Homo sapiens: one gene and its partners. The protein of the gene in region 1 interacts with the protein of each later gene in a pairwise test. Each region holds a gene or a part of one and is shown in the gene's direction. Other genes may lie near its edges.

Evidence for each region.
Region 2: the proteins of RCBTB2 (region 1) and MORF4L1 interact in binary tests that used the Homo sapiens proteins (3 or more experiments, as listed by UniProt).
Region 3: the proteins of RCBTB2 (region 1) and COPS4 interact in a two-hybrid assay, tested with the Homo sapiens proteins (one large-scale study listed by BioGRID and IntAct).

Annotation. Positions count from the first base shown.
Region 1 is NC_000013.11:48,512,506-48,516,161, reverse strand, and holds part of RCBTB2 (RCC1 and BTB domain-containing protein 2), read left to right. Parts: intron 1-420; coding exon 421-576; intron 577-806; coding exon 807-957; intron 958-3,266; coding exon 3,267-3,433; intron 3,434-3,656.
Region 2 is NC_000015.10:78,889,867-78,893,522, forward strand, and holds part of MORF4L1 (mortality factor 4-like protein 1), read left to right. Parts: intron 1-1,122; coding exon 1,123-1,148; intron 1,149-1,617; coding exon 1,618-1,706; intron 1,707-2,345; coding exon 2,346-2,447; intron 2,448-3,656. UniProt on the Homo sapiens protein: Component of the NuA4 histone acetyltransferase (HAT) complex which is involved in transcriptional activation of select genes principally by acetylation of nucleosomal histones H4 and H2A.
Region 3 is NC_000004.12:83,052,106-83,055,761, forward strand, and holds part of COPS4 (COP9 signalosome complex subunit 4), read left to right. Parts: intron 1-3,656. UniProt on the Homo sapiens protein: Component of the COP9 signalosome complex (CSN), a complex involved in various cellular and developmental processes.

The DNA of each region.
Region 1 (3,656 bases):
CCAAGCATTGTTCTTGACTTAGAGAGCAGATGACATGGCAGCTCTCTCTCTCTCTCTCTCTCTCTGTCTCTCTTGCTTTTACAACCAGCCTAGTTTCCACAGCTACTTTTAAGACATAGCCAATATTTAAAGTATCTGCTGAACATTCAGTTCCCAGAAGCCCAGCTTTGGATGACTCCTGTGTCCTTGAGGACAATGAGTAGGGGAGACCTGGTTCCATCCGGGCCTCCGCTGCTCGATGGCTGTGAGCCGCCCAAAAGCAGCTGGCAGAGGCAATCCCTGCAGCTGCGAGAGGCCTCTCAAAAATGGATGCAGTGTGTTCCTCCCAAAACCAGTGTTCGCCCTCTTCTACAGAACTGAAGGGGCAGAGAAAATTCACTTTTTAATTTGTCATTTCAACATATATTTTTTCCTTTTCAGCCAGTACAGGCTACTCTGTCATCTTTGAAGATGTTAGATGTGGGAAAGTGGCCAATTTTTTCCCTTTGTTCTGAAGAAGAACTACAGTTAATTCGTCAGGCTTGTGTCTTTGGCAGTGCTGGCAATGAAGTTTTATACACTACAGTAAATGATGAGGTAATTTTGAAGAAAATAAATCAGCTACTCACATTTTTAGAAATGGATTTGCCAAATTGAAGATCTTGGGGGAACTAAGGAATAAAAGGTTAAAAAAAAAAGCATGGAAATTAGGTTTTATTTATTATATAAAGAAGCAGTTTGCTTAAGGAAGATGATTCCTGTTTGGATGTAATTTATAGATTTGTTAGAAATAGAACTGCTTGAACTAACAGTGGTTTTTCCCATAGATTTTTGTGCTTGGCACAAACTGCTGTGGCTGTTTGGGGTTAGGTGACGTCCAGAGCACCATTGAACCTCGGAGACTGGATTCTTTAAATGGCAAAAAAATAGCCTGCCTCAGCTATGGGAGTGGTCCACATATTGTCCTTGCAACAACAGGTAACCTAGGAACCCCATGTAGAATTTCAGCTTTATTCGCAGCTGCCCTTGAGAACATTGTTTAATTGGTTGAGAGTTGCTAGCTCTTCCTGTGAAATTGACTATGTTTTGGATACCATAAAACATGAATGTATCTGAATGCCAGCATAAGGTGATGTGGCAGATGGAATCTAGGAATCATTGGCATTTTAGATGTATGAATGACAACGCTGTAAGCCCAGTAAACACTGACGAACTGATTGTGGACTTTGGCAAGTCTGTCTGAACTTTGGATTCTTGATCTATGAATTGAAAGACTAAACCTTGTGTCCAACATCCCCCCGCCAACTCTTAGCATTCTGTGATTCTTACACTAAAGAGTGACTGATGGCTGTAGTTGGCATTAGTAGTAGGGATTAGCCACTTCATAAGGGATTGACTAGAAAAATTCCTTGCTCTGAGTGAAGCAAGGAGGAAAAAAGGAAGAAAATAAATAAAACTTCTCCCCAAAAGGTTGTAACCATGGATTTGTAGTTTAATTCACATCAAGACTGAACGGTCCAAGAAATCTCAACCCTTGAATTTATTCAAGGTACTGGATGGCAAGTGCCTTAAGGGCATGATAGAAGTTAATGCAGATCCTTTCTAGGGGAAGGCACCTTTATCCTAGGCCTGAGAGAATTAACCAAAATAATTGTTCAGTGGCAATAGGCAGCACATAGTCAGAGATAACCAGATATACAGTAGTCTCCCGTTATCCTTGGTTTTACTTTCTCAAGTTTCAGTTACCTGCAGTTGACTGTGGTCTGAAAGTATAAATGTAAAATTTCCAAAATAAACAATTCATAAGTTTTAAATTGTGTGCCATTCTGAGTAGGGTGATATTTCACCATCTTGCTCCATCCCAGCTGGGACATGAACCATCCCTTTGTCCAGCATCTCTGCCATAGACACTCCCACCCGTTAGTTACTTAGTAGCTGTCTCAGTTATTAGATTGACTCTCTTGGTTTCATAGTGCTTGTGTTCAAGTCACCCTTATTTTACTTAATAATGGCCCCAAAGTGCAAGAGTAGTGATGCTTGCAATTTGGATATGCCAAAGAGAAACCATACGGTTCTTGCTTTAAATGAAAAATGGAGAGTTTCCATGCTGAGGTTGTTAAGATTTATGGTAAGAACAAATCTTCTATCTGTGACATTGTGAACAGTACATTTTGTAATTGTTCTCTTTGATTATTAGTTATTGTTGTTAATCTCTTACTATGCCTAACTTACAAATTAAACTTTATCATAAGTATATACGTATAGGGAAAAACAGTATATACAGGTTCAGTACGAGAGTCTTAGAATGTATCTCCTGCAGATAAGGGGGGCTTGCTATGCAAGGAAACAAGGTACCATGAATGGGAACCAGAAGAAACAACAGACAGCAAGAACGGATTACTAAATATCAGGCATTAAAATTATCAGACACCAATTATAAGACAGCTGTATTTATTATTTGAAGAAATTAAAATGAGCTTGAAAATAATCTGCAGGGATTATAGAAGATTTGAAAAGATCCAAATGAACAATATGATTATCAATATGAAAATTCAGTGGACAAATTTTGTAGCAGTTTGAACACAGCAAATTAGTAAAATTAGTAAACCAGAAGATAAATGAGAAGTCACTATTCAGAATATAACACTAAGAGACAACATGCTGGAAAATACAGATGAAATGAGTACAAACTGTATGATTCCATTTATTTAAATTTCAAAAACAGGAAAAACTAAACATTTGTATGCAAGATGCATATGTGAGGGCCTTTTGGGGGGTGATTATAAGGTTATATTTCTTGACTTAAGTAGTAGTACATGGGTGTGTGCTTTCTAATTTGTAAAACTGTACATATATGTTTTATTAACTTTTCTGTATATTATGCTACCCAATAAATAATAACAAAGATTTTTAAAAATCAACTTGGTGATTATTTTAAAGATAAGGAAATTAAGACCTAGGGGAGTTAAGTGGCCTTCTAATATTTGACTTCATTCTAATGTTTTTGCTATTACTCCCAGCAGCCTTTTCTCTGCTCTTTATTAAAAACTTATTTTCCAGTTATTATAACTGCATGCATTTAAATTTCACCTTGTTGCTTTGAGGTAGAATGCAGTTTATACTTTCCAAATAGATTCTTTTGTAGAATGACTTTGGTGGAATGGGGAAGTTGATTAGCTTTTTGCACCTGAATTTTTAGATTTCATTTGTGGAAGCTGTGCTACATATATTTTCGTATAATGAAGTAGATGTTGTAAAAAACTGATTGTCTTTCTTTTTATTTTCAGAAGGAGAAGTCTTTACCTGGGGTCATAATGCTTATAGCCAGCTGGGCAATGGGACAACTAATCATGGTTTAGTGCCCTGTCATATCTCTACTAATCTGTCAAACAAACAAGTCATTGAAGTTGCCTGTGGGTCTTACCATTCTTTGGTGCTAACATCTGATGGAGAGGTGAGAACAGTCAGCATAAAGCTCATTGATTTTTTTCAATAAGATTATGTAGACTTCTATAGTAGTCCTGGAAATACAATCATTTGATTAAAATAACCACCTCCCTCAAATTCAGCCTTATTTTTGGTAGCAATTCACAGTCAGGGTGTTGATGTTGTGACATTTACCTGTACGTAGTAAGGTCTTCCATAATTGCAAAATTTAAAAGGAGGTATTGTTCCTT
Region 2 (3,656 bases), on another chromosome or scaffold:
AAAGTAATCCATAATCATGGGCTCTATAAACTGTTTCCTTTGTGGTCTAGAAATAATAATGTAAAAAAGCAAAATTAGGCCAGGCATGGTGGCACACGCCTGTAATAGCATTTTGGAAGGCCGAGGTATGCGAATCACTTGAGGTCAGGAGTTTGAGACCAGCCTGGCCAACATGGTGAAATCCCGTCTCTTAAAATACAAAAATGAGCTGGGAGTGGTGGTGGGTGCCTATGGTCCCAGCTACTTGGAAGGCTGAGGCAGGAGAATCGCTTGAACCCGGGAGGAGGAGGTTGCAGTGAGCCGAGATCACCCAACAGACAGAGCAAGACTCCATCTCAAAATAAATAAATAAAGCAAAATTAGCAATTTACCATTTGACAGTATATAAGTGACGTGAGGTAAGTTGCTGTTAGAGATGATAATCAAGATGAGGAGACTTAAAACAAAAAAATTACACAAATCTAAAAATATTTTGGGGAACAAAAATAATTGGAAAAAAATTTTAACCTTTGACACCTTTTTTTTTTGGTGGGCCTAATAATGTAGTATATACTATAACATATATTAATATAACCCTGGAAGAACGAAGTTGTTTACTAAAGTGTTCTTGGTTTGCTTTTCTTTTTTTTTTGTCTTTGAGACAGGGTCTCTGTCACCAAGACTGGAGTGCAGTGGTGCAATCAAGGCTCACTGCAGCCTTGGCCTCCTGGGCTCAAGCAATCCTCTCACCTCAGCTTCCCAAGTAGCTGGGACTATAGGCGTTTGCCAGTATGCCCAGTTAATTTTTGTATTTTTTATAGAGAACAGGATTTGCCATGTTGCCCAGGCTGGTCTGGAATTTTGAGCTCTAGAGATCCACCCCCTCTTCACCTCCCAAAATGCTGGGATTACAGGCATGTGCCACTGCGCCTGGCTTGGTTTATTTTTTTCTATTATGTGGAGAGAGATGGGAATTTAACCAACTATCAATAAAAATCCTTGTGTCTGAGTAGGACACATATTTACCACCTGATCCTTTATCCAAGTTAGTATTTCTCTGTGAACTTAACCCTGATAAAGGGAGTTGAAACAGAGGCAGTTTTACTGGAAATAATTATTTTTCTTTTTTTTCTCTCCTTTTAGGAAAACGAAAAAGAACAAACAGAAAAGTAAGAATATTAACTTTCTTAACGTTAATTTATGTTACCTCTATGACATTGACGTTTTTATTTTGAAAGCTATGAAATTTTGGAGTAAGCTTATGTTTATTGATTATCTCAAATAGGAGTCTCACAGCAGTGTTATAAAATAGGTACATGGTGGTAGAGACCTCTTTTTGCCAAGGAGAAACTTGTGAGCATTTATTTTCATCTGCTTTAGTCTTAATGTCTCCCACTGAGAAGATAACATTTATAAATAAATGGAAGATGGTGATACTAAATGTTGTCTATACTAAATGTTCGGTAGAGCTCTTCATGAAAGTTGTATTTTTGGTAGGAATATGATTCTTTAACTTAGATTGAGGTAACAGCTGTGTAATGGAGAAATAATGAAAAGGGTTAATGTGTCAAGAGACTATTTTCCTTATAGAGTTTGTTAAATTAGCTAAATGAGACCCCTCCCCGCCAACATTTACAGCACCTGGAAATGGAGATGGTGGCAGTACCAGTGAGACCCCTCAGCCTCCTCGGAAGAAAAGGGCCCGGGTAGATCCTACTGTTGAAAATGTGAGTTTTTCTTGTGTTTATGAATAGCATGTTAGGATTTTTAGTCTCAGTTACATGACATAACCATGGGAGCTTTGATTATCTACAAGATTTGCTTACATGGTTAATACCTGAAATTAAAAATTTTCTCTTTTGGGGGTAAAGGATAAATTTCTGTATATCTTTATTTCACCTGTAGCTCCAGATTTACCTACCCAATTGATCATTTGTTGTGTAAGCTTCATGTTCACCTACAAGACTATTTCTTTGGTGTTACGTATTTATTTTTAGGAGTTAAAGATGTACCTTTAAGATGGTTGTGTTTGGAATAGTTTTGATATCCATGGTAAATAAGAAAATACTAAGTTAAAATGTATCAAGTCAGGGTGTTTCATTTCCTGAACAAGAGGAACCTTACTGAAGAATTTTTACCTTTACAAGAAAATGCACTAAATAGACTATAGTTCAGGTCAGATTCTTTTCTCCCAACAGCGAACCGCGTATGGTCGTTTTTATTAATGATTTTAAAAAATGACAGTACAGCTGTATGCTTGGCTACTTTAAGATTTATCCCTAGTGCCTCTAAAAGTCAGCTCCCCTCCATGTTTGGTATTTAGCAAGAAAGGTTAGGTTTTTAATACTCCTCCTGTTTCTGTTTAGGAGGAAACATTCATGAACAGAGTTGAAGTTAAAGTAAAGATTCCTGAAGAGCTAAAACCGTGGCTTGTTGATGACTGGGACTTAATTACCAGGCAAAAACAGGTAACTTGAAAAGCTACCCAGATTGTTAAGCTATATGATACATTCTTGCTAGCAAAAAAAGTTTTTAAAGGAAAATGTTATATTGACTTGAATTATTAAGGTATGACTGATAAAATAATATTTTAATTTAGAGGCTGAACACTTTAGAACTACTACCAGAAAGAGTAAGTTAGAAGAATAAAAGTTCACATATAAATTTTATGAGGTTATAATGATAAAGGTGGAAATAACTCATTTTTGGAGATTGCTAGGGCAGGAACTCGTTCTGAAAATTCATAAAGGTGAAGAAGCATATGTCTTACTGTCATTGCTAATGGTAGGCCATAGAAAGCACACACCACCACCTGCAAGGTATTCATGACCCTGAAAAGAACCTGAATCTTACTAAGCGCCTGGATCTATTGTTAGTTTGCAGGAAATAGGATGTTTAATGGAGTGACATGTTTGTCAATCGTTGAACTCTATAATTGAGAATTTTATAGGACAAATGAAGCTATTTGAACAAATGGCATAGGTAGGGTTAGGGATAGTTGGGGGAGATGATTAGGGACTGCTTGAGGATTATGAGACTTAAGAGACCTATCAGTCATATACAGTATGTGGATATAGTTTGAATTCTGATTTGAATCCTTTGGAGGGTTATGCAGTTACAGCTAAACTGCGAAGATTCAAGCATGGCTGTATCACTTATTATTTGTGAGTTTGGACAAGTTTCTTAGCCTTTTTGTGCTTCTGTTTTTGCATTTAATGGAATAATAGTTTGTATTTGACAATGCTGATGAGAGGACGAAAAGATAATTATTTTAATGCTTTAGACTAGATCTAGCAAATAGTATGCATAACAGTAAATGATGACTTGGTAGTACCACAAAGGCACATTCGTGTCTGTTATGTGTGTGTGACAGATTGACATTTTTAAAAGCTGTGCTGTTCTGTCTAGTAGAGTCTCATTTGGCTGTTTAAATATATAGATGCTCCATAACTTAGAATGGGGTTACATCGCAATAAACCCAGCAGAGAGTTGGAAAATTAAGTCCAAACCATTGTAAGTTGGGAACTGTCTGTAGTTTCTCAGCCACATTATCCATGTTTTAAGTGCTGAATAGTATCTTTCCTAATTTGAAATACTGTTACTGTTACCTGATCTTTGTATAAAAACTTGCCTGGTATGATTTTTCTTTAAAAAAGAGAGTGCTTATATTTAAGCAT
Region 3 (3,656 bases), on another chromosome or scaffold:
TTGCATGGTTTAAGAGAGAATGGGAAGAGAAGATGTGGAGATAGTGAGTATGGGCTACCCTGTGGGGGAGTTTTCAAAAAAGGTAGGAAGAAAAACAGGGTAGACGATGACAGCAGACGTTAGGCTAAGGGATTAGTTTTTCTTTTATGATCCAGTAGAAAGCAAAAATTTGATATAGGGGAATTGGGGAGAGGATTCTTGCAGGAGTAGACAAGAGAGGAAGGAATCTAGCAGAGGGATAGGCTTTAGATAGGAATATGGGTAGTTCATCTGTGTCAGAGATTCTCAGCCTCAGCACTACTGGCGTTTTCGGCTAGATACTTTGTTGTGGGGGCTGTCCTGTGTATTGCAGGAGGTTTTAGCAGCACCACTCCTCTGATTGCTGGATGCCAATAGTACTGCTGTTCCTAGTTGTGACAAGAAAAATGTCTGTAGACATATTAGTGATATAGTGGTGGAATTTGTGTAAGTACTCTTTCATTGCATTGCTCCAGTATTCTTTTTTTGTTGGCTTTTTGGTTTTGAGAGAGGGTCTGGCTCTGTCAACCAAGCTGTAGTGCAGTGGTGTGATCTCAGCTCACTTCAGTGTCCGTCTCCTAGCATCCCAAGTAGTTGGGACTACAGGTGCACACCACTACGCCTGGCTAATTTTTGTATTTTTAGTAGAAACGGGGTTTCACCATGTTGCCCAGGCTGGTCTCAAACTCCAGGGCTCAAGCAATCCACCTGCCTTGGCCTCCCAAAGTGCTGGGATTACAGGTGTGAGCCACCATGCCCAGCCTTGCTTCAATATTCTTAAGGAAGTTGAAATCAGAGACATCAGCTGGAACGGTGGATGGGGTTGCAGTGTGAGGTTGAGGAGAGACAATAATGTGAGAAGTAATCCCCTTAGGAGAGTGGGACAATGAATGGACTCAGCATGTAAACTTGGCAGCATTAAGGACTTGTTGAAGATCATAATGATTAAAATTAGATCAGTCATACTGGGCACAGTGGCTTCATGCTTGTAGTCCTGGCTACAAGCCTCAGTCCCAGCGGAGGTGGGAGGATCTTGTGAGCCCAGAAATTTGAGCCCAGACTGGGCAACACACTAAGACCCCATCTCTAAAAAAAATTTGATTTGGTGCTTTTTCCCATCACATTTCAGCTACATGAGTACGGGAAAGGAGTGAGCAAACAATTAGGTTTAACCACAGTTGCAATTTTTGCCTAACAAGTATGACAGCAAGAGAGGGACAAGGGAGATGAGTACCTATGCGGTTCAATGATGATAAGTTATTACAATGAGTGACCATAGGAGTTAGGCTAGGTAAAGAGGGAAGTGAGGCCTTTATGGAGAAAGGCAGTGACATGTAAGGGATAAGTGGTTTGGAGGGCACAGTGGGTTCAAGGATTGTTGGGTTTGAGATACTAGAGAAAATGAGGTAGAAAAACAATTTTAAAAAATTAAGATGGCAGGGCGTGGTAGCTCACGCCTGTAATCCCAGCACATTGGGAGGCTGAGGTGGGCAGATCACCTGAGGTCGGGAGCTTGAGATCAGCCTGGCCAACATGGTGAAACCTTGTTTCTACTAAAAATACAAAAATTAGCCGGTGTGGTCTCATGTGCCTGTAATCCCAGCTACTGGGGAGGCTGAAGCACAAGAATCATTTGAACCCGGGATGTGGAGGTTGCAGTGAGCCGAGATTGCACCACTGCACTCCAGCCTGGGTGACAGAGTAAGACTCTGTCTCAAAAAAAAAAAAAGATGGTTTATAACTCTTACTCAACCAATCTTACCTCTTGATGTATATGTTTTTTAAAATTTATAGTTCTTTATGAAACATTTCTCCTAAGTATATTGCACGAGAAGGATGAAAGGTATGAGACTATTGCTTATTGTATTGAAAACACTTCCTCTTCCAGTTGGCAAGTATAAAACGGTACCAACTGTGAAGGACTTAAAAATATCTTTGGCCAGGCGCGGTGGCTCACACCTGTAATCCCAGCACTTTGGGAGGCTGAGGCAGGCGGATCACAAGGTCAGGAGATCAAGACCATCCTGGCTAACATGGTGAAACCACGTCTCTACTAAAAATATAAAAAATTAGCCAGGTGTGGTGGCAGGCGCCTGTAGTCCCAGCTACTTGGGAGGCTGAGGCAGGAGAATGGTGTGAACCTGGGAGGCGGAGCTTGCAGTGAGCCAAGATCACACCACTGCACTCCAGCCAGGGTGACAGAGCGAGACTCCATCTCAAAAACAAAACAAAACAAAACAAAACAAAAAATAACTTCATCTGCTTTTCTACTCGTTTGCCAGGTGAACGGGGGATTCTTTTTTTGTTCTTCATTAATATTTGCAATAGTGAGGCAGACACTGCTTCAGACATCTTGCCTTTTTTGTGCATTATTTATGAAATTACTTGGCAATGATGCTCCTTGAAAAAGCGGCCAGTTTGTAAAAAAGCCTTCATATGTAGATGTTGAATTTTGCATTTCAAGGTCCCTTGATAATTTGGTAGTTTGAAAAAGCTGGGCTTTCTTGATTGCTTTGGTCTTATTCTTTACCTAGCATTTTTTCCCTAGCACAGGGCAATTGATTTATTTTCAGTGGTAGCTGAAACAAATATAAAATTAGATACTGTTTTTTGCAGTGGTCATAATTATCATTTTATAGTACTATAGTGTTATCCTCATCTGTGAGGAAACCAAAGAGATAAAAATGTCATTGGTTTTCTAAACGAGTTAAAGTGACTAAATGTAGACTTTGGATAAATGGGAACTTTTTCTTTCAAAAAATGATTCATTCTGATTATGAAAGTAATCGATATAATAGTTACACTTGGCAAAAAATTGGAAAATTCAACAGTATAGTGCTATGCATAGCAAGCAATGTAAATTTGAATTGTGAATGGAAAAAAGTACAGAATATTAATATATGCAAGGAATAAATTTGCATAAATTTCTCCTCCCATTCTCCTTTGCCCCCAAATCAATAAAGTATAGAATTATTTTCAAAGCTGGGGCCAAGTGAATTATAAACTCTGTGTTCTTGCCACATGGTGGCACCACTTTTGCAGGTAAATAGGATTAATTTTTCTGTTAGGATTAATCTTGTTTCATGTGAGTTTTGAGTTATGTGAGGTCTTTAGTTATGCACTCCTGGCATAAAATGTGACCACTGAGATGAAGAAGAAAATGAAAGCCACCTATAATCTGACTACCCACAGATAATTGCTATTAGTATTTTGATATATGTGTATAGAAATATATTTTAATAGTGTTTTACATACTGTTTTATCCAGTTTTTTCATTTAGGAAAAATACGTGGTGACTAGATTATAACTATACAGTATTCTACCTTTTTTTTTTTTTTGAGATGGAGTCTCACTCTGTTGCCCAGGCTGGAGTGCAGTGGCATGATCTCGGCTTACTGCAACCTCCACCTCCCGGGTTCAAGCTATTCTCCTGCCTCAGCCTCCCTAGTAGCTGGGACTGCAGGCATGTGCCTCTATGCCTGGCTAATTTTTTTATTTTAGTAGAGACAGGGTTTCACCATATTGGTCAGGCTGGCCTTGAACTCCTGACCTCGTGATCTGCCCGCCTCGGGCTCCCAAAGTGCTGGGATTACAGGTGTGAGCCACCGCGCCCAGTCTTGTATTCTACCATTTTTATG